7 linked regions of the Homo sapiens genome follow. The protein of the gene in region 4 purifies or fractionates together with the protein of the main gene of each other region. This does not show direct contact. Each region holds a gene or a part of one and is shown on either strand. Other genes may lie near its edges. The genes, in order: FBLN1, LRP1B, PPP2R5E, ZNF517, LRP2, NUDT12 and NDUFAF7.

Evidence for each region.
Region 1: the proteins of ZNF517 (region 4) and FBLN1 purify together in Homo sapiens (affinity purification with mass spectrometry; 2 studies listed by BioGRID and IntAct, with this or other methods). This does not show direct contact.
Region 2: the proteins of ZNF517 (region 4) and LRP1B purify together in Homo sapiens (affinity purification with mass spectrometry; 2 studies listed by BioGRID and IntAct, with this or other methods). This does not show direct contact.
Region 3: the proteins of ZNF517 (region 4) and PPP2R5E purify together in Homo sapiens (affinity purification with mass spectrometry; 2 studies listed by BioGRID and IntAct, with this or other methods). This does not show direct contact.
Region 5: the proteins of ZNF517 (region 4) and LRP2 purify together in Homo sapiens (affinity purification with mass spectrometry; one large-scale study listed by BioGRID and IntAct). This does not show direct contact.
Region 6: the proteins of ZNF517 (region 4) and NUDT12 purify together in Homo sapiens (affinity purification with mass spectrometry; 2 studies listed by BioGRID and IntAct, with this or other methods). This does not show direct contact.
Region 7: the proteins of ZNF517 (region 4) and NDUFAF7 purify together in Homo sapiens (affinity purification with mass spectrometry; 2 studies listed by BioGRID and IntAct, with this or other methods). This does not show direct contact.

The regions. Positions count from the first base shown.
Region 1 is NC_000022.11:45,505,883-45,509,382, forward strand, and holds part of FBLN1 (fibulin-1 isoform D precursor), read left to right. Parts: intron 1-3,500. UniProt on the Homo sapiens protein: Incorporated into fibronectin-containing matrix fibers. May play a role in cell adhesion and migration along protein fibers within the extracellular matrix (ECM).
Region 2 is NC_000002.12:140,350,017-140,353,516, reverse strand, and holds part of LRP1B (low-density lipoprotein receptor-related protein 1B precursor), read left to right. Parts: intron 1-444; coding exon 445-564; intron 565-2,478; coding exon 2,479-2,720; intron 2,721-3,500. UniProt on the Homo sapiens protein: Potential cell surface proteins that bind and internalize ligands in the process of receptor-mediated endocytosis.
Region 3 is NC_000014.9:63,382,878-63,386,377, reverse strand, and holds part of PPP2R5E (serine/threonine-protein phosphatase 2A 56 kDa regulatory subunit epsilon isoform), read left to right. Parts: intron 1-1,806; coding exon 1,807-1,934; intron 1,935-3,500. UniProt on the Homo sapiens protein: The B regulatory subunit might modulate substrate selectivity and catalytic activity, and might also direct the localization of the catalytic enzyme to a particular subcellular compartment.
Region 4 is NC_000008.11:144,801,913-144,805,412, forward strand, and holds part of ZNF517 (zinc finger protein 517), read left to right. Parts: intron 1-957; coding exon of another isoform or gene 958-1,002; coding exon 1,003-1,035; intron 1,036-1,728; coding exon 1,729-1,855; intron 1,856-2,212; coding exon 2,213-2,326; intron 2,327-3,500. UniProt on the Homo sapiens protein: May be involved in transcriptional regulation.
Region 5 is NC_000002.12:169,244,035-169,247,534, forward strand, and holds part of LRP2 (low-density lipoprotein receptor-related protein 2 precursor), read right to left. Parts: intron 3,482-3,500; coding exon 3,344-3,481; intron 2,953-3,343; coding exon 2,671-2,952; intron 899-2,670; coding exon 659-898; intron 1-658. UniProt on the Homo sapiens protein: Multiligand endocytic receptor. Acts together with CUBN to mediate endocytosis of high-density lipoproteins. Mediates receptor-mediated uptake of polybasic drugs such as aprotinin, aminoglycosides and polymyxin B.
Region 6 is NC_000005.10:103,548,355-103,550,572, reverse strand, and holds the end of NUDT12 (NAD-capped RNA hydrolase NUDT12), read left to right. Parts: 3' UTR 1-1,718; downstream 1,719-2,218. UniProt on the Homo sapiens protein: mRNA decapping enzyme that specifically removes the nicotinamide adenine dinucleotide (NAD) cap from a subset of mRNAs by hydrolyzing the diphosphate linkage to produce nicotinamide mononucleotide (NMN) and 5' monophosphate mRNA.
Region 7 is NC_000002.12:37,234,658-37,238,157, reverse strand, and holds part of NDUFAF7 (protein arginine methyltransferase NDUFAF7, mitochondrial), read right to left. Parts: intron 2,063-3,500; coding exon 1,982-2,062; intron 402-1,981; coding exon 291-401; intron 1-290. UniProt on the Homo sapiens protein: Arginine methyltransferase involved in the assembly or stability of mitochondrial NADH:ubiquinone oxidoreductase complex (complex I).

The sequences.
Region 1 (3,500 bases), on a different chromosome or scaffold from region 4:
TGCTTCAGCCTCCCCAGCAGCTGGGATTGCAGGCGCCCATCACGCCCAGCTAATTTTTGTACTTTTAGTAGAGATGGGGTTTCACCATCTTGGCCAGGCTAGTCTCGAACTCCTGACCTCAGGTGATCCACCTACCTCGGCCTCCCAAAGTGCTGGAATTACAGGTGTGAGCCACCGTGCCGGCTGGCAGCCCTGTTATTAATGTTAGCTATTATTCCTGTTGTCCCCTTCTCTAGGAAGTGTTGGCACCAGGAGCCTTCGCAGCCCTTGGGGGCTCCCTGGCGGCTCCTTGGAGGAGATGAGGCTTGATGTGAGGGGAGCGCGGGAAGAGCGCAATTCTGCCAATACCCCAGAATTGTTTTCCCCAAGATGCCTCTGCACATTCTACTACTACTGAATTTCCCAGCCAGGCGCTGAGCAGAAGGCCCCATGGGGCTATAGGACTGGTAGTCGTCAGTGCCAAACCCGTGTCAGGAAAGGTGGTGTTCTTAGCCATTCAGTCATTCATTCACTAAGGGACAGCTCAGTGCCAGACACTGCTCTATAACTTGTGGATGTGGCAGGAAAGGAGAGAGACCCAGTTTTTCCCCCTCATGCAACTAGGAGATCCAGAAAAATGAACTGAGCCCTACTGGCAGAGTCAGGGAAGACTTCCCGGAGGAAGCGGCATGCAAACTGGGAACCTAAGGAGGAAAAGGCAGTGGCTAAGTCTGTGGGTAGGGCTGGGAGGATGGGGGAAAGGGTGTTCCTGGCAGGGGAAATGGCAGGGCCAAATACCTGGAAGGAAGAGAAAACACGAGACTTCCAGGGAAACCCCCTCCTTCTACCCACTTCCAGTTCCTTCCAGTTCCACCCCCTCCTCACCACTGGGGGAGACTGTGCTGTCTAGAGACTTCTCCAGCAGCTTCCCTGACCTGGTGAGACTTTAAGCCCGGGCTCTGAGCACTGGGCACCTGGTCAGGGCCGCCTTCCAGGTGAAGTTTATTAGAACAGTTCTAAGAGGGCATGTAGTTATTTTGCCAGCATATTTTATACAACAAGATTTTCCTTTTGCAGAATAGCAAATCATAACAATTTGATGAATGAATCCTTTCGTAGGCCCCATATGGTTCCAGTTTCCTTGTGATGATCTCACATGTGGCCCTATAAGTAAACAGGGTGGGAGGGGGGAACCACTGTGTCAACTTCCCTGGGATAGGAGACCCCCTCAGGCTGGAGGGGAGCTCAGGACTGGCTAAGTCATCTGCCACAAGTCACCCAGCGAGGAGCGGGGCTGGGGCTGGGCCTAGAGCTGGGCTGGGCCCCACCTCCTTTAACCCCACAGTGGTCCTAACTAGAGGCTGGGGTGGGAGGGAGCGAGGCACCAGTCGCCATAGCTTCCTACAGGTTATTTGCGGGTTACTACACTGTGCGGAGCCAACATGAGAAGGGGGTTAGGAAGCTGTGTGTTGGTCCCAATTCTGAAAGTGTCTGGAGAGATCTTGATGACACCCACAAACTCTCTGCCTCTGTTTCCTTCACTATAAGATGTGAGTGTCCTCTGGGTAATTATTATAGGTGAAATGCTTTACATTTAGTAACCAATGTCGTCATCTCAGCAGCCCTACGAAATAGGTGATCCAGTGTTGTTTTGAACCTATTTTTATTTTTTATTATTATTTTTGAGACGGGGTCTCACTCTGCCGGCCAGGCTGGAGGGCAGTAGTGTGATCTCGGCTCACTGTAACCTCCACCTCCTGTATTCAAACCATTCTCCTGCCTCAGTCTCCTGAGTAGCTGCGACTACAGGCATGCGCCACCACACCTGGCTAATTTTTGTATTTTTAGTAGAGATGTAGTTTCACCATGTTGGCCAGACTGGTCTTGAACTCCTGACCTCAAGTGATCCACCTGTCTCGGCCTCCCAAAGTGTTGGGATTACAGGCGTGAGCCACTGCGCCTGGCCCTGTTTTTCATTTTGGATCCTGTTACCCACTGGAGTGAAAAGGTCCTGTGAGTTTTGCTACCTAGGTATGAAGCCCGGCTTCTTGTTTTGGCCTAGAACTCCTCTATGGACCTGCACAGTGCCATTTCTGAGAGTCACTGATGCGTGTGATAGGTTGAGGATGGAAATCCAACACCTGTGCACCCAGCATGGTCTCCCCACAGCACGGGGACTCGAGCACCTTCCTGCCCCACCCCTGCCCCAGTTCACCTGTGTTACCTAGCTATACCCTCACCCTAGCCCTGCAAAGGAGGTGCTGTCATTGTCCCCCTCATCAATGAGGGGACATGGAGGCCCAGAGAGTCCAGGTAGCAAGACTGTGGGTGCATAGCTGCTAAGTGACAGCAGCAGGACTTGAGCTTGGGCAGCTTGGCCCTGACGTCATACCCCTCACCAGCACACTGGACAGCCTCGCGTATCTTTTTTTTTGAGACGGAGTCTTGCACTGTCTGGGGTGTGATCTTGGCTCACTGCAACCTCTGCCTCCCAGGTTCAAGCAATCCTCCTGCCTCAGCCTCCCAAGTAGCTGGGATTACAGGTGCCCGCCACCACGCCTGGCTAATTTTTTGTATTCTTAGTAGAGACGGGGTTTCACTATGTTGGCCAGAGTGGTCTCTAACTCCTGACCTCGTGATCTGCTCACCTTGGCCTCCCAAAGTGCTGGAATTACAGGCGTGAGCCACCGCGCCCAGCCAGCCTCACGCACCTTTAGAAGACTTGAATCTTTAAGTCTAGTTCAGGGGGGGATGCCTGTTTCCTTTGGAGTGTGATGGTGGGGTGTGTATGAGCTTTACAGTCAGAGCTGGATCTGAAGCCTGCCTCTGCAGAGGCTGCATGGCCTCGGGCAACTTGGTGATTCTCTCTTTGCCCCCACTTTATAGAATACCTAGGATCATGTGAGATCATTTGTGCGTTCATTCATTCACGGACATTTATTGAATGACTGCTTAGGGCAGGCATGGGGGCAGGAGGCAGAATGAGACAGTGTCTGGCTCAGACTCATGGCACTAAGTACAGAGTTAATTATTTGTGCTAAGTGCTGGGAAGCTCAGAGTACAAAGAGACCATGCAAGAAAGAAAACATATTTGTCCCATGTGCATGCGTGTATATGTGCATATGTGTGTGCATTGGCGGTAGTTAGGGAGGACTTCCTGGAGGAAGGGACCTTTGAGCTGGTGTGGCATGAACAAGCTGGCCTGAGGAGAGCAAGCGTCCTGGGACCCTCCAGCCTTTGAAGCTCCAGGTTCCAAATGCCAGGTGCAGAGGATGCATGACAGGTGGCCAGAGGGGTGAGAGGAACACCAGGGGAGATGCGTCCTGGAAGCCCAGGAGGCCCTTGGAGCAGGGTGGGATGTTGCAGAAGGATGAGGATGCCCCTCTGTGCACTGGGCTGATGTAGGAAGTTGCTGCCGGGGCCAGAGCTGCCTGGAGGGAACTGTGGGGAGAATGCTTCTCGCCTTCCCAGAGAGGTACCTTCTGCTCCTTCTCTCTTGCTGCCTCCTCCCGGCTGGTTCA
Region 2 (3,500 bases), on a different chromosome or scaffold from region 4:
AGGTAGGTCATCAGAAACAGCTTAAAAGAAAACCTCAAGACAGGTCTATTTGCGTGAATGGAAATCTATACAACAAACCCCCATGGCACAAGTTTATCTAGGTAGCAAACCTGCACTTGTATCCATGAACTTAAAAGGTAAAAAAATAAATAAGTAAAAATTTTAAGAAAGAAAAAAGAAAGCCCCAGGGAAGTTTGAAATTGAAGCTTTAATATTTTAAGTGGATTAATAAAAGCAATGACAATTGATAAATCTTCTACTACAAATATTGTGAAAAATGATTATACCTTCAAAAATATGACACAGCAGGTCACAGATTAAAGATGTGAAAGGACAATAAAGCTAGTAATAAGTTAAAAATAATTTTGGCTTTTTTGAAACGTGGTAAGAATAGGAGTCTGAATTGAGGGTATGATGATGCTATTTTGAGCTCTTCTTTTCTAGACCTTAATGAATGTTTGGTGTTTGGCACATGTTCCCATCAATGTATAAATGTGGAAGGATCATATAAATGTGTGTGTGACCAGAATTTTCAAGAAAGAAATAACACCTGCATAGCAGAAGGTAAGATTATAACCACTATTGCAAATCCTATTACAATTTTGTTGTAAACATTTTATGGAGAAAAATGTTTTATATTTCATTCCAGCAACAGCTTCATTTCTGATAAAATACTTTTAATGATGATTAATTTGGCCAGTTGGTTAGTTAATATTAATGAATTTAATCTTAGATGGTTTATGGAAATGACTATGAAATATATGGTTACTGTTAAAATCACATTGTGTCATTGTGTTCAAAACAATTTTTCAAAAGGGGTAAAATTTTAAAAGCCAGTGTGATAGAATGTGAAGTATCTCTCTTGATGGTCTGCTCTAAGGGAATATGAGAAAAATTATACCCCAGGGATAAAAATAAACATTAGCATTATAAGGAGAAAGGAATTTTGAGTAAGGATTTTAAAGGTTTTAAAACAAGATCTTGCTTTCAAATTTAGAAGTCCTCCACTTACCAATATTATTTTTTAAAAAGATTAAATGATAGGCCTGGTGCAGTGGCTCATGCCTGTAATCCCAGCACCTTGGGAGGCCAAGGCGAGTGGATCACGAGATCAGGAGTTCAAGAACAACCTGACCAACATGGTGAAACCCCGTCTCTACTAAAACTACAAAAATTAGCCAGGCGTGGTGGTACACACCTGTAGTCCCAGCTACTTGGGAGGCTGATGCAGGAGAATCGCTTCAACCCAGGAGGCAGAGGTTGCAGTGAGCCAGGATTGCGCCACTGAACTCCAGCCTGGGTGACAGAGCAAGACTCCATCTCAAAAAAAGAAAAACAAACAAACAAAAAAAGATTAAATGATAAACTAGGGTTCTGGGCAATTGTAGGTATAGATTTTAATATTCATGTGTTTATGCTAAATAATACTGTAACTTCAATATTGTTGGCTACAAAGTATGATTGGACATTATTAAGATTGTTATTACAAGAAGAAAACAGGATGATGTAATGGATCAACTGTGGGCTATAGCATTTGATATGCTTGGATTTGAATCCCAGCACAGCACCTTTTAGACTGTGTGGCCTCAAGGAATTCACTAAAGTGTCAGAGCCTCAGTTCAGTTTCCATAGTTATAAGAAGTGGAGATAAACTGTGAAAGGCTTAACATAGCGTCTGACACATAATAAGCATTTGCTAAGTGACAGCTATTAACATTACAGAGCTGAAAGGCACCTCATGAGGTATTATTATTATTATTTATTTGCAGAAACTATGTATGCAATCGAACATCTCTTTAGGGCTTCGTTAATATTTTAATTGATAATTTTGGCATTTGCTTTAGGGTTTTACTTGTTAGTATGAAAATGACATTAGTACTCTATTGTAGGTGTCAAAACTTTAGAATAGAATGTTACACTTAGCAGGATTCTAGATAATTTAGAGATTATAGAACTTTAATGGAATAAATACTGATATCTTTTTATGTTAAAAGTTAGTAAGCATTTAAGATGTATAAATACAGTAAGAGGAAGATTCTTCATATTTTAATTTTTATTTCTTAGCCTAAAGTAATGATCACTCAGGTGCATAAATTAAGTAATCAGAAACTTTTGAAGCTTAATGAGTATACAACATAGTACTTGGATATTGACAATTGATGCATTATAACCTAGTGTATTGTGACTTATCAAATAATAATCTCTCTTCATAAAAGGACATTTATATGTACATAATTTCTAGCCATAAGGAAAGATTGGCAGTAGAAAAACCTCTATCAATAATTATTGTAAATGTTTAGATAAGTGAGTATCAGAAATAATAAGCCATAAAGACTAAAAGACAATATAAAACTGGTTGATTTTTGAGGAAAAACTGTATTAAGAATAATAATTCAAGATAATTTAAAAGTACAATTATTGCTTTTAACATTAGTTGAAATTTACTTTATTTTTGTATTTTATTATAATAATCTCCAGGCTCTGAAGATCAAGTTCTCTACATTGCTAATGACACTGATATCCTGGGTTTTATATATCCATTCAACTACAGTGGCGATCATCAACAAATTTCTCATATTGAACATAATTCAAGAATAACAGGGATGGATGTATATTATCAAAGAGATATGATTATTTGGAGTACTCAGTTTAATCCAGGCGGAATTTTCTACAAAAGGATCCATGGCAGAGAAAAAAGGCAAGCAAACAGTGGCTTGATTGTAAGTAAATACCATTGTATATTTGAAAGTCCATACCTTTTCCCCACCTGCTTTTTAAACAAAATTTATCTAATATAATATCTAATTATACTAAGTAATATATTCAATTATTCTCCCAATATTCTCCTTAAATAGAAATAATGCATTTCTCTACTCATTCTCATAGCTGTACATGATTTATTTTAGTTGCATGCTTTTATGTTTTTGCTTTAATGTATTTGACTATTATATAAGAATGCTAATGAATGACATATAACATCTCCAGAACATCTATTTCATAGTGCTTTACAATTATTATGAACATAAGCTTTTTTATCATGAGATGAGATTGGGAAACATCACTTTATTTTTACATTAGAAAGTAGCGTAATGCAGGGATAACTATTTCTCTTCTTACATTATCATAAATATACTTCTACTGTAGGGCAGGACATCAACTCAATAGTGTAACCATTTCTTCTGACTCCTGATAACTATATTTCAGGAAATATCCAAAACAGAAATATTGTGCACTTGTGTATGCTGGACATGTTGATTATCATGGTTATTGTTTTTGAGAAAAAATAAACTGGAACATGTTTCAATTTATGGTTGTAGATTAGATTATCCCTTTTTGTTTTAGGGCATGTCAAGTTATTGTGTGTTTTATATTTTTAAGTAACCTGGAAGGAAAATGACAGATAAATATGTGTTTTTATAGGGCCTGGCCCATTCCTGTACAACCAAAAAGTCAAGTGGTGTCCCAGCAGGATGTAATTGAAGCTTTGTGTTTAACAAAAA
Region 3 (3,500 bases), on a different chromosome or scaffold from region 4:
AGTCTCAGATTCTTCATCCACAAAATAGAAAAGTAATGGTACCAACTCTGTTGGTTGTGAGGAAATGAGATATTATATATGTGGGACACTTAGCACAGTGCCTGGCATATAGTGAACATGCAGTAATGATTGTTTTCTTTGTACTCTCAGGGTCTGGTGCCTAATGAGTCTCAGGGTTTTGTTTTGTTTTTTGAACCAAGCTGAATAATGTAAATGGAAAAATTCTGTTTTCTCAGTGTCTTTCGGTAGATACATCTTATACCATTTTGTTCTCTTCTAAAACAGGGCTTCTTAATCTGTATAAATGAAGGAAGCCACCCCTTTTTCCCTTTTCCCCTGTAACTACCCTTTTTAGAGATTTTAGGTTTTGTTTTTGAGATGTTCTTTTGAATTCATGAAATCCAAGATGAGCCAATCAGGCCCAGCAGACCAAATTAGAGCCAGTTGATAGCATGGTGGGCAGAGAAAAGGGATCTAAGAGAGCAGAGAGGGTAGGTGCAGCCAGTGTCCCTGAGACCAGAAACTGAGCAGACATCTCCTGGCTTGCACAGGAAGGGACCAGAAACAAACTCTGGAAGAAGCCCTAGAAATGAGGCCCCAGTCTTTACCATATTGTCAGTGTAACCTTGCCTACATTACTCAGTCTCCCTGAGTCTCTGTGTCCTCACCTGTAAAATGAGCACAATGGTATCTCCTTCTGGGATGGTGGTAAGGATGATACATTCTACTTGCTGTGTAGGCACAGTGCCTGCCCATAGGAGGTACTTAGTAAATATTGGCCGCTCTACAGGGATGAGCAACTGTGGGTGTTCCTCAGTAGCTGTGACTGAATGCTAACCATATGCTGGGCCCTGGGTTCGATCTAAGTGTGTGTGATGAAAAACATAAGAAAGGGGACCAGTGAGATGTGCTAAAGTGATGTCAGGAAAGTGTGGAATCAGATGACATGGGCAGAATTAGAGAAGAATATAAATTAACAGGAAAACTTCTTTTCCTTCCCTGAGTCGATGAACCACTTGAACCACTCTGGACTTTTTTTTTGGTGGGAGGAGAAGACACGGTCTTGCTCTGTCACCCAAGCTGGAGTTCAGTGGCATGATCTCCACTCACTGCAACCTCCGCCTCCCAGGCTCAAGCAGTCCTCCCACCTCAGCCTCCCAAGTAGGTGGGACTATAGGCACATGCCACCAATCCCGGCTAATTTTTGTGTTTTTGTAGAGGCGAGGTCTCCCCATGTTGCCCAGGCTGGTCTCAGACTCTTGGGCTCAAGTGATCTGCCTGCCTTGGCCTCCCAAAGTGCTGGGATTACAGGTGTGAGCCACCGTGCCTGGCCCACTTTGGAATTTTCCAAGAGATTAAAAATCCACAAACATTTAAAATGTGGGCCAGGCACGGTGGTTCACGCCTGTAATCCCAACACTTTTGGGAGGCTGAGGTGGGCGGATCACGAGGTCAGGAGATCGAGACCATCCTGGCCAATGTGGTGAAACCCCGCCTCTACTAAAAATACAAACATTAGCTAGGCATAGTGGCATGTGCCTGTAATCCCAGTTACTCGGGAGGCTGAGGCAGGAGAATCGCTTGAACCCGAGAGGCGGAGGTTGCAGAGAGCCGAGATCGCGCCACTAGCGAGACTCCCATCTCAAAAAATATATATATATTAAAATGTGATTAATATTTAATTTTACCTCTAATTGAATGATTTACAAATAGCCTTTTGAAATACTTTTGTTTGGAAAGATTTATAATTTTGTTTTATCTTTGTCTTTTTCTCTCTCTTAACATTTTATTTTTCTTTTCCCAAAGGTGGCAGAAAGAGCACTCTATTATTGGAATAATGAATACATCATGAGTTTGATAGAAGAAAACTCTAACGTCATCCTTCCCATCATGTTTTCCAGCCTTTATAGGATTTCAAAAGAACATTGGAATCCGTAGGTTTTCAGTTTCTTTCCTCCGTTCTCTTCCTCCCTTCCTCTCTTTCTTTCCCTTCAGCCTTATTATGTGCCAGATGCTGTCCTTGTTGCTGAAGACGTATGTGAAAAGATAAAATCCTTACCTTCTGGGGATTCACTGACTGGAGAAAATAAACAGATACTTTAACAAAATACCGGTTAAAGTATCTGTTTACTAGACAGGCTTCTTGATCTGTCTATGAAGGTAGCAGATCTTTTGGGGAGGCACTGCAGCTGAGAGGAGAGGTGTGTAGATACTGACAGCATGGCCATGCTTAGACTGAATCTGAAAGGAATTTGGCAGGTGGATGGCATGGGGAGAGCCCTTTCAGACAGTGGGTCCATCCATCATGTTAAAAGGCACAAAGATGTAAAAAGCAGCTGTCAGTTTCTGAGACCTGTGAGTTTGGGAGGGCTGAGGCACAAGGTCTTTTGGGGAGGGTGCTAGAGGATGTGGCTAGAAAAGACTGTGGGACTCGTGTGAGCCTTCACCAAGTAGATGATGAGGAAGTACTGAAGGGTTGTTAAGTGGGGAAGTGGTCTGACTAGGTTTTCATTTTAGTGTGATCTATTTAACAGCCAACTCAGTCGCTATATGTATCTCTTGGAAAGGAAGGAGTTTAAAATCATCAAGGGAAGTTTAACATCCAGCCCTATGAAAGTTAAAGCATTCTGAATTTGAATGCCTTTACATTTTTCTCTGTGGAATAGAAGGAAAATTTAATGTGGTATTTAAAAATTGGGAGATACAATTCAGTATATTCATAATATGTTTATCTTTAAAAATTTTGCATGTAATTATAAAATATCACATTTCTAATTTTTCAAATTTGCCTAATTATATTAATAGAACTTGTAAAAATAAGGAGCTGATAAACAGTTAAGTCCCTTTATACAGATAGTCTCTTGAGGACCTAGAGAACGGTTCTAGCAAGTGTCTGTAACTACTCAGTATACTACATTTGGTGCTTTCCCATCACTGCCCTTGGGAGGAAGGTCATTCTGGAACCTTAACAGAAAAGAACTTAAATTTTCCTTTTAATGGCACAAGGCAGAAGCTACACAGCAAGTGTACTTTCTTGTAAATGTTTTGGAAACATCAGACTCATGGTTTATTTAATATATGGCTAATTTTTACCAATGCATTTTTCAGTGGTATTAGGAGCATGTTTGTTGCAAAACGGAAGCAACGGATATTTTTGCAAAAGGAAAAGCTATTTAGACTCTAGTCTGAAGCTATCAAGCCCATCATAACCTTGTCCTCACATTGCCCAAGAGCTAATTCTTGTTAAGTATGGGCTACCATTTTGGCTGTTTAGCTGTATAGTGTCCCATAGCTAATAGCAACCATCCCAGCTTGCCAGTTATCAGCATATATTTTGGGTCAGCAGGACTGGTGCAGATCAGAGCTAGACAGATAATTCATATTGAACCACCCAACCTACATGAGGGCTTGATTTCATTTCTTTGGATAAGAATAATTTATATATATACACATATATATATAACATTTGTTTCTAGGGAAGTAGCTTCTGATTTTGATGA
Region 4 (3,500 bases):
GTTCCAGCTACTCGGGAGGCTGAGGTGGGAGGATTGCTTGAGCCCAGGAAGTTGAGGCTGCAGTGAGCTGAGATCACACCACTGCGCTCCAGCCTGGGTCACGCATTGAGACCCTGTCTCAAAAAAAGGAAAGAAAAATAGGAGAAAAAGAGGAACCACTCATAATTCTATGACGCAGAGAGAGCTAGAGTTTTATGCTACCAGCTTTATTTTTCTGCTTACAGTCTGCTTGTTTCATGTAGTAAAATGCAAGAATGTTTTCTGATGTTCCCACAACATGGTTTTATTGGTTGCAGAGTCACCCATTGTTCATTTCATAATGAGCAATGTTGCCCAGGCCGGAGTGCAATGGTGCAACCTTGGCCATCCTGGGAGGAAATCTTAAGCCCAGGAGGCAGAGGTTGCAGTGAACCAAGATCACACCACCAACTCCAGCCTGGGCGACAGAGCGAAACCCCGTCTCAAACAAAACAAAACAATAATTTTGCTCTAACCAGTCACGCTTTGTTCATTTCATAAATCCTTTCTGAGCACATGCTGTGTGCCAAGCCCTTCCTCAGGCCCTAGGGGTACAGACCAGAGGCCTTGTCTAATTGGGGAAGGCAGATAAGGAGCAAGGAAGTTAACTTGTCTTATGTCAGATGGCATAGTGCTATGGAGAAAAATAAAGCAAGGAGCGAGGATAAGGAATTCCCAGGCAGGAGGGGAGGTGGCAGTTTAAAAAATGGTGGTCACAGAAGGCCTCCCAGCAAGGTGAGAGCCAGAAAACATTGGAAGGAGTGGGTGTTCCCATGGAGAAGCTTGGATACACCTCCTTGGGACGTGAAGGAGGCGGCTGATGTGATTGCCCTAGCACTTTACCCTCTCCTGCTCCCTTCTGGATCTGGAGGGGCCTTCTGGGGGGCTGGAGGGCCTTAGGCCTGGGCTCTTTCCACTCATGGCTCTATGTTCCCTCAGAATTCACTGTCTGTAGCATCTGCTCCTCCACAGAGGGACCCTGGAATGGCGATGGCACTCCCGATGCCTGGACCTCAGGTGAGCACCCCCTGAGCCCGTCCATTGCCCCAGGAGACTGCTTCGCCCCTAGCCTCAGCTTTTCAGCCCTGAGAACCTTACAGCTTGCCTCACACCCACCCACATCACAGGATGGAGTCTGCAAGCCGAGGACAGCCTCCTCGCTCTATGGCCAGGCCTCACACATGGCTCTGCCAAATCCTTCCAGCCTTTGGGCAGAAGTGGGCTTCCTGCGGCCTCCTCTGGCCCCTGAGCTTCTATGGTCAGCCATTGAGGGCAGGGTCCCTGTCCTTCCCCAGTGCCTGCCTCCTTCCTGGTGTGAATGGTCAGCCCATCCTCCCTCTCCTGATGCTGACTCACTGCTGGTGTTAGAAATTGAGACCCAGAGGGTGGGGATGCTCCCCACAGTGCAGGTGCTCCTTCCCCAAATCCCTGATAGCCTGTGGAGAGGGCGAGGCCAAGGTTGGGACCCCCTTCCTGGTAAATCTCTCTCCCTCCCCCAAGTTCAGTTTTTCCCTCTTCCTCTCTGGGGCTTCTGCTGAGAATGAGGCCGCTCACTCGGGGGGTGTTGGGCTGCCCTTTCTCTGCTGGGCCCTGTGGATGCAGCAGTGGGCAGCAAGGAGAGAGGCCTCTAGCAGATCATGCAAATGTTTCTCATCTGCTGGGTTCTCACCGAGCCCTTGACTGCCTGGATAGCAGAGTATGTGGTTGCAGGAGGCGGTTGTGTTCGAGGATGTGGCTGTGTACTTCACAAGGATAGAGTGGAGTTGCCTGGCCCCCGACCAGCAGGCACTCTACAGGGACGTGATGCTGGAGAACTATGGGAACCTGGCCTCACTAGGTGAGGGCTTCTGCCTTTGGTCCTGGGGCCGGGAGGTGCGTCTGTGTTAGCTTCAAAGGAAGTTGGTTCCATTGCAGATTCAAGGTCTGACACATTTTTGAGGGGAAGCTGGAGGCTCCCCAAGGAGCCCCTCTCTGCTTCCTGTTGGGCACCCACTGCCAGCGTCAGCCTGCCTGAGGCTTCTCTCCTGGGGCAGGCCCCCCATCTCCCCCTGGCCACCTAGCTGCCCCCTTCTGGGATAGTGAATGTTCCTGACCCACTCCAAGCACTCTGTGCCCTGATGGCCTCCAGCCAGGCACCTGGGCGTCCCTTCTCCCTCCTGTACTGATACGTGCTGCTTTCCTTCTCTGAGCTTAGGCTTTCTTGTTGCCAAACCAGCACTGATCTCCCTATTGGAGCAAGGAGAGGAGCCGGGGGCCTTGATTCTGCAGGTGGCTGAACAGAGCGTGGCCAAAGCCAGCCTGTGCACAGGTGAGTACAAAGCACCCACAGGGCGTGTCCTGTGCTGCCAATGTGGCCTGGCCTCCGGGCAGCTCTGCAGGTCCCTTCTTCTACAGTGGGAGGTGTGTATGTTTAGCTCCTCACAGCAGGGCCAGATTTCCTACTAACTGCCTTGCTTGTAGGTCTAAGGTCAAAACTAACTTATGCAGGAAGACCCAAGTGCGAGAGTTTTCCATTTTGGTGTCCCCAAGGTGTCAGGGGCCGGGTCTGTGCTCACAGTGCCATTACCCTTGGGTTGTGTAGGGACCAGCCCTACAGGGTCTGTGGGTTTTTCTCCTCATGTGCAGAGACGAGAGATCATAGAAATAAAGACACAAGACAAAGAGATAGAAGAAAAGACAGCTGGGCCTGGGGGACCACTGCCACCAAGACATGGAGACTGGTAGTGGTCCTGAATGCCTGGCTGCGCTGTTATTTATTGGATACAAGGCGAAAGGGGCAGGGTAAAGAGTGTGAGTCATTTCCAATGATTGATAAGGTCATGTGAGTCACATGTTCACCGGACAGGGGGTCCTTCCCTGTTTGACAGCCGAGGCGGAGAGAGAGACAGGACAGCTTACGCCATTATTTCTTCTATGCATTTTAATGACTTTTAGTACTTTCACTAATTCTGTTACTGCTGTCTAGAAGGCAGAGCCAGGTGTACAGGGTGGAACATGAAAGTGAAACAGGAGCATGACCACTGAAACACAGCATCACAGGGAGACGGTCAGGCCTCAGCATGGCTGTGGGCGAGTTTGACTGATGTCAGGCCTTCCACAAGAGGTGGTGGAGCAGAGTCTTCTCTAACTACCCTGGGGAAAGGAAGACTCCCTTTCCAGGTCTGCTATGTAACTAGTGCCTTCCCAGGCACTGGGGTTACTGCTAGACCAAGGTCAACTAAGTAACGGGCGTCTTCCCAGGCACTGGCGTTACCGCTAGACCAAGGAGCCCTCTAGTGGCCCTGTCCGGGCGTGACAGAGGCTCACACTCTTGTCTTCTGGTCACTTCTCACTGTGTCCCTTCAGCTCCTATCTCTGTATGGCCTGGTTTTTCCTAGGTTATAATTGTAGAACAGAGATTATTATTATTATTATTTTTGAGATGGAGTCTCGCTCTGTCGCCCAGGCTGGAGAGCAGTGGCGCGATCTCAGCTCACTGCAAG
Region 5 (3,500 bases), on a different chromosome or scaffold from region 4:
CACAACATGAAATTATATTAAATACACACTTATAGGGTATGAAAGCTAGAAGGGATCTTAAAGCTCATCTATTCCAAATGATAGTGACTTGCCTAGTCAGGCAACCAGGACTAGAACTTAGCCCAGGGAACTTTGCTCCATCTTAAACTATTATTGAAGACATGAAATAAAACAACAAGCTAAAGGAAAGCAGAACTGGCAAGATGGAAAACAGGTGGATAAGATCAAAGGAAATTTAAATTTTCTGTGCCTCTTTATTTTGATGTCTTTTTGCTTGTACCAAATGAAAAAGAAACATCAATAGCCAAAGGTCTGGATATATCTATATGACTTTTAGTATTGTTTTAAATATATAAATAGATAGCTGAGGGATTTTCACTTTTTCAATTCCTATCTGAATTGAAATGTTTGGCATCAGAGGCAGTCCTTGCTTTGCTTCCATAGAACTCAATATTTGTAGGTGGACTCTAAGAATCCCATGTGCAGGCACGTGCCTTTGTTCTTGTAACCTATTGACACAGAGATTGACAAGTGGAATAGAAGTACTAAAGAGACAATGAAAATTGCATGAGCCTTAGAGGAAAGAATGCAAGGCCATTTGGTTGTTGAAGTCTATTTACGAGGCTGACCAACCAAGGGAAACCAGCTCAAAACTTACTGCAGTTCTTTTCATCAGATCCATCCCCACAATCATTGTCTGTGTCACAGACCCAGTTCTTTGAGATACACTGGTGATTATCACAGGTGTATTGGGTGTCAAGGCAGGAAGCAGGTGCGTGGGTGGGGCAGTTGTGCTCATCACTGCCATCCACACAGTCGTTGCGTTTGTCACAGCGCCAGTGTGCAGGAATGCACTCCCCATGGCCACAGGTGAACGCCGAAGATGAACAGGTATTATCTACAATAGTAACAAACTGGTCATGAAGACATTTGTTTTTACAGCCTTTTAAATGAGTTCTTGCCTTATAAAGGCTCAGTTCACCTTTTTTAATGGAGGCATTGTATATAATAAGGAGAAATGTTCATCAAGTGATGTCATCATCACTAACATCATTATTGGCTGGCATTTATTTGGTATTTATCATAGAAAAGGCATTTTTCTAAGTTATGCACCCACACACATCATATAAGTTCTCTTTAAATCCTCACAAGAATACTATAAAGTACATATAATTGTCTGCATTTTACAGATAAGGAAATTGAGTCTTTGAGAGATTTAGGAACCTGCCTATGATTCACGCTCTGGTTGGATTCACTCTAAAGCTCATCCTTAACTTTCAAGCTGTTACTTCCTCCAACCACAATTTCAAATTCAGACTATAGAAAGCTTGAAAATATGTCATATGAAAAGTGCAAATAGATAAAATATTAAGGTAAAATGCTGTGCTCTTAGAAACAAGAAGATAATACACAAAAAGATGAAAATTTAAAAAATTTCAGAAAAATGTACAAGTGAGCACTTTACTCTTGCAAATCTGTCACTCCTCTTTCTCTCCAAAAGAAAGGTTATTATTAGTATTAACTTCACCTTGATAGAGATTTCTGAGATTTCAACTGTCCTCTATCTTTTTTTTAATTTGAATGTAATACTTTTGCCTTCTGCAATAGTGTTTATTAGGCCCCAAACTATATAGACTAGATTACCGTCAAAAGAAGAATATAAAGGTTAAGACCACCATTTCATTGTTAATTTATTTTACTCTAACATGGGAGAAAAGGAATATAACACATGAGATTTTCCAAAGGCTATGATTGCAAGTAGTTATTCTGTGATACTATTCTCTCGGTTGCTAAATGTTAGGTCTACTTTATTTTTGGTTTTTGTTGTTGTTGTTGTTTGTTTGCTTATTTTTTTGAGGCAGGGCTTCACTCTGTTGCACAGGCTGAAGTACACGGCACAGTCTTGGCTAACTGCAGCCTCAACCTCCCCAGCTCAAACAACTCTCCCACCTCAGCCTCCCAAGTACAAATTTTTGTATTTTACAAATTTTGTGAAAATACAAAATACAAATTAGCTGGGTGTGGTGGCATGTGCCTGTAGTCCTAGCTACTTGTAATTTTGTTTTTTTTGTATTTTGTAATTTTGTATTTTGTAATAGTCCCAGCTATTTGTAATTTTATATACATATTTTTTTCTGAGCTCATCTATTTCTTTTTTATTTATTTATTATTATTATACTTTAAGTTTTAGGGTACATGTGCACAATGTGCAGGTTAGTTACATATGTATACATGTGCCATTTTATATTTTTTGTAGAGACCGGATTTCGTCATGTTTCCCAGGCTGGTCTCAAACTTCTGGACTTAAGCAATCCTCCTGTCTCGGCCTCCGATTACAGGCATGAGCCACCTTGCCTGGTCAGATCTAGTTTATTTCGATTTGACTTTTTGAGGAGTTTGCCAAGACATAATGACTGCATTGGTCCAAACAGCCAATGTCAAGGAAAAAAATTGTTGAAGATAGTCTAAATCAAGGCCAGAAACCATCCATAACATTATGAATGAAATTTCTTGCTTAGCTTCCTAAAAGCCTTCAAAGTGCATGTTAAGAATCTGAAATTCTAAAAGATATTTTTCCCATATAAATAGCCCAAGCTTTTATTTATTTTCTTTAAAGCCCACCTCTACTCTATTCATCCCAGGAAATATCGCCAGTGCATAGCTACTTACTAAGTGTGCCACATAGTTGCTCATCACTGTTATCATGACAATCATCGACTCCATCACAGAGATAGTAATTGGGCACACATCTGCCATTTTTACAGGGGAAGGAAAATAAGCCACACTGCTCTGTGGGTGGTTCATTGGTTGGGTCCCCCTCGCATGTCAAGTGATTGGAAGCCAGCCTCATTCCATAAGGGCACCCACACACTCGCTGGAAATTTGGCACCGGGAAGCAGAAGTGGCTGCAGTCACCGTTAGGATGCGTGGGTTGATTACAGGCGTTAGAACCTGCAAAAGCAAAGCCCCGAGGGAGTCAGTCATGTACATTTTCACTAGGTAGGTCACGGGTTTGATTTGTGAAGGAAAACAAACAGGACAAAACATTTTTCAGACCCAATACTAAAAAGTAGCTTCCTCTTGGAAATCAACCCGCCAAATACAACATTCCATTTAGGTATGGAAAAGTCCCAAAATGTGTTTTTCCTGACAACATGTTTAAGGCTAGCAGCATTGAACAGAGATTTCAAGTCTTACACTCTTAGATTATGTGAACGACAAGAATATAAAACTACCAGGAGCTAGACCTTTAAGTAATAAGTACTTAAAGAGAACAGGAGCCACTGTAACAAATAAATAAACCCATACAAAAAAATAAAAAAAACTGGGCAATCTCACTCACCAGTCTGGATGTTGACATCATACGATTTCAAATGCAGTATGTAAGCAATGCCACTTCGGATAACTGTCATTTCTCCACCATCTGCTTTCCTGACTCGAATAATGGCACCCAGTCTCCAGTCAGTAAAAAATAAATGCTCTGAAAAGAAACATGGGTA
Region 6 (2,218 bases), on a different chromosome or scaffold from region 4:
TAAGAGACATCATGTTGGAAAGATGTTCTAGAAATGTGCATAAATTTCAGTGCCTCTTGTAAGCATTAAACTGATGATGAAGAAAGTTCCTGATTTGAGAAATGAATCAAAGTAATTTTAATGAATTTTTAGCTTGTATTAGCTTGAGTTAGCTGGCATTGATTTTTTAGTCCTTTTGTTACCTTTAAGTTGTCAATATATGGTTTTTGTTCATCTCCCCATTGTAGTCCCACTTGCTCTTTCCTGGGGGTTCCATTGTTCTAGCAGTGGAGGTGTTATAGTGTCGCCACTCGTCTAATTTGACCAGTGTTAAGAATTTTCTAATTTAATAATTTAATAGTGATCTCAATACCACACCCTCATGGAAGGAGAAAAGCATACTATTATATCTGGGACCTCTCTTTTAGACCTAAAATTAATTAACATATCTACTTATATGTTACTTATACCTAAAGCTGTTATTAAGACAAACCAAGATTCTCTGCTTTTGCACTGAAATTAAACTTGAAAGGAATTCTCCTCAAAGGTCGGATATTAAATAAGTCCCAGGCAGATTTACATATTTAATTTAAAACATTGGCTTTATTTCATTTTGTGATGAGTGATGTATCTGTGTTAACAAAAAATTGTATAATCATTACCAATACTATTTATTATGCTCAAATATATCTTGGCTTTGACCTTATTTCAACACATTCTAAGAAGCCTTGACAAAGTAAGTATATTTTAGAGCTGAATCAGTAAGATTCTAGAGAAAGCAAAACATAGTAGTTCACAATTTTGCAACATAGAAAGTCACATTTTGAAAGGCTATTTTGAAATTGATTTAATAGCTATTATAGTTTATGAATATCAAAATTTGTATAATTTGCATCTTTACTAATGTATGCTAGAGCTACAAGAGACCTTAAGGATAATATATGAAATTAGCTTTCCTTATTTTATAGATAAGGAAAAAGAAATTGTGAAAGGTGAATTTACCTAATTAGTGAAAGTTACATAACTAATTACAACAGTCTGTACTATATAATGCAGAGGACGATTCTCCCTGTAAAAGGAACTAGAAGCTATTACTAAAAATATATATAGACAAAATTAAAAGAAGGAATGATAAGAATAAATTTAATTTACCAAATATTGTTAATTAAAATTTTAGATACTTAACATTTATTTAACTTAAATAAAAGATAACTGTCAGATAAAACTTTATTTTACTAATGAGCAGTGATTTTCTTAGGAATTGATGAAGGCTTATTGGTATCAAGAATTTAAACCAAATTAAAACTGACAGAGGACATTTAGATACATAATAAAATTCGAGCTACATAAGTATATGGAAAATAATGTACCTTGATTATTATGAAATAGAGCATCTTGAAATTCAGTTTTACTCTAAATGTACTTTTAATACTTGCAGATTCTAAGATTACATTGTAAAATTCCAGGTTTTCATAATGTTAAAATAGGAAAGTAGAATATAAAGTATCAACAAGTGTAGTTATACATTTTGTTTTGGATATTTAATCCTTACTTGGGAAAAAATCAGCATCTAGGTAAATTATTATTTTAATAACAACTCTTAAATTGCCAACCTCTGAGAGGTGAAAAGCTATGTAAATAGAAGGAATGGCCAGTTCAAAAGAATAGTAGATGTGATAGTGCCGTGAATGTATTCTACTGGAAATGAATGTAATAATACATTAAATTTTTAAAATCTATTTTGTTTTGTGTGTGTGTTTAACATGTTTTGACAAGTGTCCTGAAAAATGAGAAAAGCTGGATTTCAGTCGTTAACCTGTTTCGAATTGATAATGTACAAGAAATGCAAAAGCCTTTTTAAAAGTGTCTGTGTTTGGGAGACTTAAAACTTTGATTTGAATCTTAAAGTATAGTTTGGGGTCAAATACAAACAGACTTACATATATACATACATATATAAAGTCAATAATTTTTGTTCTTCAGGTTTAAAGCGATATATCTAATTTTTATTACTTGTCTAATACTGCTAATTGTTGGATTTTGATATTTTCACATGTTGATGGAACATGAAGAGTTAGAAGCCCACATATTTTATTTAGTTGGAAAAATGAGAAATTCTTTTAAAGACCCAGTTAGGGATTTGGCTGAAGACAGAAAATAATAGGATAACAAAGGGAGAGACCAAGATGGAAGGAGGAAGAATAAGTTTGTTAATAAGCCAAATTAATCCCACATAACA
Region 7 (3,500 bases), on a different chromosome or scaffold from region 4:
TAAACTTTTAATATAATTAACAACTTTCCTTCCTGAGGAAACAAATACACTCTCCCATAATGTCTTCTAAATGTTTCCTATTTTTAGCTTTCATATTCTCCCCCTCCCCTCCAATTTTTAAGTTTACAGACAACAGTAAGTAATGACTGATTACATTATTCTGACATTATATTTTAGCTGAGAAATATGAAATTAAGGAACTGAAAACCAATGAAATCAACATGGTTTGCACACTCAGAAGTACTAAAATTCACTTATATGAGACTAGAAGACATTCTTTTATTACCTACCCTCAAAATATCTCCCACGAGGGTTCCCCTACCTGGGCCCAGTTCCACCAGCTGGAAAGCTGTGCTTTTTCCAGTGGCCATCCATTCACTAATGAACCATATACCTAGTAGCTGTGAAAAGGGAAAAAAAAAACACATATTAAAGTATTATAAAGTATAAAAGTATACCACAATATAAAATTTCACATAAATATGCACTATATGCCAAAAAGCAAAATGTGTACAGCCATATGTATGTTGTTCAATACATACGTACATGTTCACATAGGAACTTCCTGGGACTACATCATAACATACACCATTTAGGAAGATTAATAGGAAAAAATAAGGCAGCCTCTGCTATAAAAGGTCCCATGACATAGATAAGAGGATATCACTAGCAGAAAGGTATTAGTATTTGAAAGCAAATAAACATATGAAATGTGATTATGCCATTTCTTCATATTCATATGATTTAAACAATTACATGATTCTTATAATAACTAATGTTTTTCGATACGCACATTCTACTTCCTCGTATACACTATTTCCTATTTCTAAATTCATAGAAGGTACTTAGTGGAAATGAATTAGAATTCTGTTTATTAAAGGAAGACTTGGCTGGGCGTGGTGGCTCACGCCTATAATCCCAGCACTTTGGGAGGCTGAGGCGGGTGGACCACCTGAGGTCGGGAGTTCAAGACCAGCCTGACCAACATGGAGAAACTCTGTCTCTACTAAAAATACAAAATTAGCCAGGAGTGGTGGCACATGCCTGTAATCCCAGCTACTCGGGAGGCTGAGGCAGGAGAATCGCTTGAACCCGGGAAGCAGAGGTTACAGTGAGCCGAGATTGCGCCACTACACTCCAGCCTGGGCAATAAGAGCAAAACCCTGGCTCAAAAAATAGATAAATAAAAGAAGACTTTTACTGTAAGTACGGCTAAAATCATGACTGGGAGCTTTAGAGCTTCTCTTAATTCCACTAATTCTTCAATGCTCTTTATCTTTTCTCTCTTCCTTCCCGGGCACTCTCCTGGGCACTCTACCTCTTTCCTCGCCTTTCCTTTTGTCTCTCTTCCTTCTTCCATTCTCTTTTTTTTTTTTTGAGACGGAGTTTTGCTCAGTCGCCGAGGCTGGAGTGCAGTGGCGCCATCTTGGCTCACTGCAAGCTCCGCCTCCCGGGTTCACGCCATTCTCCTGCCTCAGCCTCCCAAGTAGCTGGGACTACAGGCGACCGCCACCACGCTCGGCTAATTTTTTGTATTTTTTTTTTAGTAGAGACTGCGTTTCACCGTGTTAGCCAGGACGGTCTTGATCTCCTGACCTTGTGATCCGCCTGCCTCGGCCTCCCAAAGTGCTGGGATTACAGGTGTGAGCCACTACGCCTGGCCCCTTCTTCCATTCTCTTCCTTCATCTGATTCTCCTTTTTCTGTCCTCTTTATGACCCCCTCCTTTCCTTCTCTTTCTCTTTGTCCCTCTTATCTCTCCATTTCCCTTCCTACAGTGGAGTATAAACTTTTCAAATATTCTCTCTACCATTTTACTCCCCTCTACTGCCTCTCTATTCCCTCAGTACATAAACTACTATAAAGTTAAAACTTTTGATGAATCACAAAAAAAGCTGTAGAACACTACTACAGAATAATACAATTTGATCTGCTCTCAAATGTTTATATTAGCTTCATTCATACTTTACATAGTATATTACCTCCCCAAAGATTTGACTTATTTCAGGTGAAGTAATGAAATCTCCTTTTTCGCCTAGCATGTCACGGTACACATAATAACCCTGAGTAAAAAGAGAAAATAGAGAAACAAAATTAATTTTCAAATAAGCCTTTTAAAAATACCCCTCCAAAATCTTAAATAATGTAAAAGTGAAATAATTATTTAGTAAGAAAGTTCTCTCCTCTAAATAAGCAAGGGGAGCCAGGTGTGGTGGCTCATGCCTGTAATCCCAGCACTTTGGGAGGCCGAGACGGGTGGATCACGAAGTCAGGAGATTGAGACCATCCTGCCTAACATGGTGAAACCCCATCTCTACTAAAAACAATACAAAAAAATTAGCCGGGCATGGTGGAGGGTGCCCGTAGTCCCAGCTATTTGGGAGGCTGAGGCAGGAAAATGGCGTGAACCTCGGAGGCAGAGCTTGCAGTAAGCCGAGATCGCGCCACTGCACTCCAGCCTAGGTGACAAAGTGAGACTCCATCTCAAAAAATAAATAAATAAATAAATAAATAAATAAGCAAGGGAAATATGGTGTCTTTACCCAAATTTTACAAAGTAACAGTCATTTTACAAAACCGGTAGAAAAACAATTACACCTTGACCGTAAAGGCAGAAGTCATGTAACGTCCATCTCTGCACGCCAGACCCTTCCTCCCCTCCCAGCTCCCACACCCAACACAGCAAGACCCTGCCTACTCCTCCAGCCTCCTCTCCAAATTCTAACACTTTCTGCCTCACATATGGGCCCTGCCTGCTGGTGATGTTCTGTTTCTTGATTTGGGTGCTGGTTACATGGGAGCATTTGCTTTGTGAAAATTCATTGAGCTGTAAACTTGTGGTTTATGAACTTTTCTATATGAATATTATATCTCCAGAAAAAGGGTTGTTTTTTTTTTTCTTATTAGCCTTGCTTGTCCAGACATCCATGCCACTGCAAATCCTCACCCTTCTCCCTTTTCAACTTTCCCTGGCAGTCTTATACTCAACCTCCGAATCTGCTCAAATGCCACCTAGCTGACCTCCTCCAGCCCTCCAACCTAAGGCCAAATCCAGTGCCACCTTTTCTGAGCTAATTTGTCTCTGTTCTTCACCACAAAGTATAGTTGTTTGCAGAAGATCATGCCTTATTTATCTTCATATCCCAAGTTTTAGCACGATGCCTAACCTTCAAGAAACACTCAAGAATTGAGTTAAATATTTCTTATGCTTCTCAAGCTCCTATTCTACCACCTTACTACAGGTGACATGGGCCCCAGTCTCACTCCAGAATTAAAGAATGTTATAAAATACGAATTCCTCAGCTTCCCATCCCCACCTGGCCTCTAACCTAATCTGGGGACTCCAAGAATGAAATGCCTTCCCCTTCTCCTCTCATCCAAACCTAATCCCTCCGCCTGTGCTCTGGACCATTCCTCATACAACTCCCCTGAGTCCTTTTAGCTGTCCCCTTCTCTCTTCCAGCTTCAACTTTCCCCCTTCAGCATTCAAAATAAATCAAG